Regions from separate parts of the Homo sapiens genome. Here region 1 is linked to region 2. The links come from fine-mapping of genetic effects on gene expression. A gene starts in region 2. The other region holds a variant in brackets. All regions are shown on one strand. Distances are from middle to middle.

Region 1 (2,922 bases), 60 kb before region 2:
CATTTACATTATTTTCCTTTTCTATTACACCCGGTTCCCTCTGAAAAAGAGGATTTAAACCACGTAAGTAATAGGTACTAATCACACAATCTTTGCATGTTGGGGTAATATTAACATCAGAAGTGAAATACAAGAGGAGCCCTCCTTTTGAGAATCCCAAATTTAGCATCCATTCCCACCTGACAGCTTCCAGTTAGCTCATCCCACTGAGACAGCAGCAATTTATTAATTACCCTAGAAGAAGTTTCCCAATTATACGTTATGCAGCACCAGAAAAAAATGTTACTAAGGATTTTTTATCTACCTCCTCTCCTGCTTTCTAACCCTGAAATGAAAACTGCATTCTTGAATGATTGCAGGACATTTTCTTAGATTTCATGGCATATTGAGAAACTTGTGTTCTGAATTTTATCCCAAATTAAAATGTTTTTACTTTTAAATCTTACTTCCACTACTGCAGTGTAATCAGACTATCAATCTGAAATCCCTCAATTATTAAATCAGAAATCACTCAATTATTACCGTCAGATCTAACCCCTTTACCTGCACTGCCATGCCTACTATTCTGAATTTCTATTGAGCCAACTCAATTCTTACTTTGCAGGGCCCAGGGTTAAGTAATGTCACACTGACTATAAGCATATCATCTGATAAATGGCCTTTAAAAACACTAGCCCCTTTCCCAAAAAGCCTGTACTTATCTGCATTAGATCAGATTTTTAAAAGCCTTTTACCATGTGGTATTTCAATCCTGGTCTCTTTACTTTGCTACAGTTTTGGCCTAGGAACCTAAATGTCAAAGTACTCAATGAGTACACCTGTGATTATAGAAAACCTAGAGTACTGTTGTCTTAAACACGAGGAAATTTAAGCCACAGTAGCGTAGCCTAAAACCAAGAGCGTGAAATGACTTCCCCATCAACACAAACTAGACATGTCAGTATTCCAACAACCCTACCATATGTGTGTATAGATTTTCAATCTGTGATCATGCTCTACGGCTATTTGCAAAAGTAACTGCAGCTAATTAAAAGTAATGGCAAAAGCCACAATTACTTTTGCACCAACCTAATATTAAAAAGCGCTCTCCACAGCTTCATTCAATACCTGCTTTCCTAGAATAAAATGTATAGTTGGCCCCCCATGTTCATGGGTTCTGCACATGCAGATTCAGCCAACTACAGATCGAAAATACTAGCAAAGAAAAAAAACTAAAAA[A/C]AGTTAACAAAAATATAAATAAAAAAAGTTACAACTATTTACATACCATTTACATTTTATCAGGTATTTTAATGTAGAGATGATTTAAAATATACAGGAGAATATGCATAGGTTACATATAAATACTATGCCATTTTATGTAAGGGACTTGAACATCTGCAGATTGTGGTGTTCACAGCTAAACAGACTGCTCTGTGCAGGGAGAGGCCCTACAGTGAAGGGAAAAGTAGACACTTGATTGTGGACTAATTTGTTCAGTATTTCCCAAAAACTTACAGCTAACAATAATATTAAACAGGTTTTATTAGCATCTTATACATCTGACACTCTCTCCTAAGCATCCAGTTTATTTTCTAGTCACGGGTTACTTACTAAAAGTCTGTGTAACATGAGCTCACATCAGATTAGAAAACATCAAGTGGGTAGTATTTTTGACTGAATTAACATACAAAAGAAATTGCCTATATCATGTATATGGGCTCCAAGGGTAGTTCATACTTCAGCCTCTTCATTCTTTTCTGCTTTTGTCACCTGTTACAGAAAATGATCTATAAAATCCTCATAAATAAGACATGAGTTTTGCCTGTAATGAGTAGGATGAAAAAAGGCCAGTGCCGCATGCTATGAAACAATAGCAACTTTACAGGGGAATCCAAGGTTTGTGTGCACAAAAATTATAAGCGGCATTTTCTGCTATGCTGGAAAAACTGAAGTATAAAACACAAATGAACTAAGCCTTTCAAGGATGAGGTATCACCAACACTGGTAGCTGTTTAATATATTCATCTTACAACTGGATGCTAAAAATGCAATCACTGTAATTAATAAAGTTGAGGAAAACACAAAGATTAGCTAACAGGGGTAAAAGATCATTTAGAGTAAAATAAATGTGTAACATTCTCTATGTTCTCAATCACCTGGGAAGGCAGTCTATGGAATATCAGGAAGTAAGAGTTTTCTTGTTTTCAGGAACATGGAGGTATATACACTTCAGAATTCAGAAGGTAACTGGGGCTATAAATAGTAATTAAAAGAACAAAATAGAAGCAGGGGGGTTCCATTATGCAGCTGTCGCCATTTTCCTGAAATCTTGATGTTTTTGAGCCTCTCCTATTTAAGGACAAAACCATTTAGCACAAAACACAAACCTCAGAAAGGGTGCCAGCTGGACCACAAAGCACTGATGAAAAGGCAGAGAGGATATACTTCCCAAACTTTCATTAGGATGTAAAAGCCATTTTGAAAAAGTCTCCACTCTATGTCAAGTTGACTCCTCAATGCAACATGCATCTCAATGAAATATAATTTGAGTAGTGTTGTGTTGGTATGCATCATGATTATGACTCCAAGAAAAATATATCTAGTGCATTCTAGAGGTTTTGTGGAGGACGCTGTAAAACAAAGTTTGAAGTAAACAATAATAAAATACAAAAATAAAAAACCAGGGTTTTTTTTTTCTCCAAATTCCTGGTTTAATAAGGACTTGTTTATTTTGAGGAAAAAAGGTCCCAAACATCAGGCTGTTCACAAAAATAACCCACAGTATCAACTTTAGAAAACAAATCTTAAGACTATAACACTAATTATTTTTCTAGAGGATGCATTTGACATGCCAACTCTCATTCACAAAAATACATTGTTACATTTGTGTTGAACTGCCCCACACAGCACACTAATGTGAGGGTGTAACACACATACTTCTAA
Region 2 (2,922 bases):
AGAAAAGTGCCCGTCAATCAATTTCAACTACTATTAACAGTTCTTAAATACTAATTTCTGACATTTCTCCTTGCCAACATTTTTACTTCATGATTTCCCATTTTTACCCTAACCTCATTTCTAACAGTTCAGCACAATGATAAACTTTAGTTTTAAGTTCCTGTAATAATATACATGTTTAAGCCTTAAGAAAGGGGTCGCGATGTTTTTGACCCTTATTTTACTTCCTATCAAATAGATTGCCTTACAGATGAATTTCTTACCCTGCAGAATGGGTTTAAACTGTGCTTAACAGCTTTAGTTTTTGTGAGATTAACAGATTGTGAAAAATAAACTTAGCCAAATCTCATGTGAGGATTAAAAAAAGCGATGTCCCAGATAAGTCAATGTGACACTAAAGATCTAAACAATTTTTTTTAACTTTTAAGTTTTTTATCAAATTTCAGCACCCAGCAAATAATAGGCACTGTTAATATTTGCTTAATATAACGTAGCTGTGAATTTTTGCCCACATTTAGGCGGACGGGAAAATTAACGCCAGAATATCCCGAAAGTCAAATTTTGTCATCTTACACTTAGGAAGTTACGTTAAAAAATTCTCAAGTCTCGTAGTATTTTTCTTAAGCGCAATTTGGGAATTTCCAGTTACCTCGTGGTTTCCGTCATCAGGTTCTTGGCAAAGATTGCAATACAGTAGTTTTAGAACTATATTAACTAGGTATTCCATTAACTAGGTAAAAACCACTCGACTGACCTCGTGGTCAAATTCCTTACTAGTGCTGCTACTGACTTAATATGACCCTAGCAACCAACACTTTTCTGCCTCAGTTTCCGTCTGAGAAAGAGAGTTAATACCTACCTCAAGCAAAGTTCCACTAACTTATATATTTCAAGTGTTTTGTAACCTGCAGATGAAAAGTCAGCTGTAAATATTAATATAGTTATATCACAATATTTCCTTTTACAAATGTAAGTGAAAATAACTACTTCGAGCTCCATCATTTGCTCATAGAGAGAAATAAAATAAAAAGTTATCAGTAAAATGCTGAATCTTTTGTTAAACCTTTCTCGTAGGCCACGCGGCACGATCCAGGATTTAAAGGCTCGCGATACATCTACTTGGTAACCTTCCCCCTTCCCCTCCCCCACTTTTTACATGTAAGAAGAACGGAGGTAATAGAAGGCATCGGCGCTACGTTAACTTCGACTATATTAATGAGCATCACGATCTTCATTTTCATGATCCCGTAGTCCTCGCGGTCGTAGAAAATGAAAGGAAAGCAGCCGTTAACACAGGAAGAGCGAAAAAAGGACATTTTCCCTGGCGATCGTGGCCTAGAGGACACCAGGTTAAACCTATACAGAGGCTGAGGCCTATAAAACTGCCCCCGGCTTCAACCTAATCCCCCAAAACAAGCAGAATAAATGAGGGCCCGGTTAGTTAGGGGGAAGGATTCCCACATCTTCTCTCCCACACCCCCTCTCGCTTCCCGAAAAACCCAGCGCCTTCCCTGCGTCCGCCCTCTCCACTTACCAAGAAGGGGAGGGAGAAGAGATTCGATTCTGAGTCTCCTACTCCCGGGTTCTGCGTAGAGAAGCCGACTGCTGCTGGAGGTCGGCAACGCGGCCACAACCGCTCAGTCTTCGTCTCTTCACAAAATGGCCCCCGAGTCTCCTCTGCCGCCGAGGCGAAGGCCTAGTCCCCGCCCCATTCCTGAGAATCTTCCTATTGGCTGTGCGTTTTTTCGCTCCCGCTCCTAATTAGACAGTTCAACCGCTCCTCACAATGATATCCAATCACAATTAGCAGTGGGTTAGACTAAGCAGGCGAATTTCCACATGCGTGAGAGAAACTAGTTTATAACTGGTTAGTTTTCCTGTCATTTATTGCCTGGAGAATGCTTATTGGCTATTGCACGGGACGACCCTCTGGGTGGAAACTCGCCTTTGTATCGCGCACCGTCTCACATCCGGGTATCTGGGAGGCCTGATTGGCGGCCGCGGCGTCCTATCGCTGCCCCTTAGAGTGCCTAGTAGAAGATCCGCCCAGACCTCGGATTTCCGGCTGCGCGGGGGCGGGGAAAGGGTTGAGGGGCGTAGTTAGGTGACGGGCGCAAAAGACCTGCCCCAGCCCCGGGCCTAGGGAAAAAAAAGCGCGAAATGAAGCCTCCGTTGTGCAATGTGAATAAAGAAAGGACTTTTCTTAAAATGAGGAGGGAGCAGCAGTGACTAGGCCTTGTTAAAGTGTGTAGAAAACTAACCAGTCCTGCAGTTTTTCCAACCCCAGACCCTTTCTCAGTTCCAGATTCGAATGTCAGCTACCTCGTAGACATCTGCTTCTTGGCCTATTAAACCCTTCTTCAGACAACACATGTTCCATCGAAACCAACTGACTTCCTTATTCCTCTCCAATATAAAAAGGAAGTGCAGAATCCTGGCCTCTGGCCCCAGGGCATCTAATATCTTAAGTGCCAGCAAAATTGGCCCATCCTTCCAAATCTGGTCCCTTAATTTCCCTCCTCTTGAAATGGCTTGTCTCCTACCTACCCCCGTCACCTGCCAGTCTCTCTGGTTACATTATAGGAACTGCGCACGCAGTGGGGTAGCATCAGCTCTACTAAGCCAGCGGTTTCTTTTTTCTTTTCTTTTTTTTTTTTTTTTTTTTTTTTTTTTGAGGCAGAGTCACTGTCGCCCAGGCTGGAGTGCAGTGGCGCGATCTTGGCTCACTGCAACCTCCGCCTCCCGGGTTCAAGCGATTTTCCTGCCTCAGCCTCCTGAGTAGCTGGAACTACAGGTGCGCGCCACCATGTCCAGCTAATTTTTGTATTTTTAGTACAGATGGGGTTTCGCCATGTTGGCCAGACTGTTCAGGTGATCCGCCCGCCTCTGCCTCCCAAAGTGATAAGATTATAGGCGTGAGCC

Direction of the effects. Positions count from the first base shown, and alleles are read on the strand shown. Sizes are in standard deviations (SD) of each study's normalised expression.
For the expression in CD8 T cells of the gene that starts at base 1,679 in region 2, A is the low allele of the variant in region 1 and C is the other (moderate effect, 0.60 SD a copy in Kasela 2017).

What was found. PIP is the estimated chance that this variant, and not a neighbour inherited with it, causes the effect.
Region 1: its variant is fine-mapped to the expression of HNRNPC in CD8 T cells (Kasela 2017, PIP 0.95). The same link has a PIP of 0.9 or more in B cells and monocytes.

What each region holds. Positions count from the first base shown.
Region 1 is chr14:21,207,881-21,210,802 of GRCh38, forward strand. HNRNPC (heterogeneous nuclear ribonucleoprotein C) reads right to left here. Exons shown (of 9, transcript NM_004500.4): 9 at 1,267-2,922. Among named protein-coding and RNA genes, the nearest start is that of LINC00641, 2.4 kb to the left of the region's middle. The variant A/C (reference allele first, on the strand shown) is at 1,219.
Region 2 is chr14:21,267,764-21,270,685 of GRCh38, forward strand. It overlaps HNRNPC (heterogeneous nuclear ribonucleoprotein C), which reads right to left and starts at 1,679. Exons shown (of 9, transcript NM_004500.4): 1 at 1,535-1,679. RefSeq lists enhancers at 1,158-1,782, 1,420-1,679, 1,783-2,408 and a silencer at 1,770-1,849.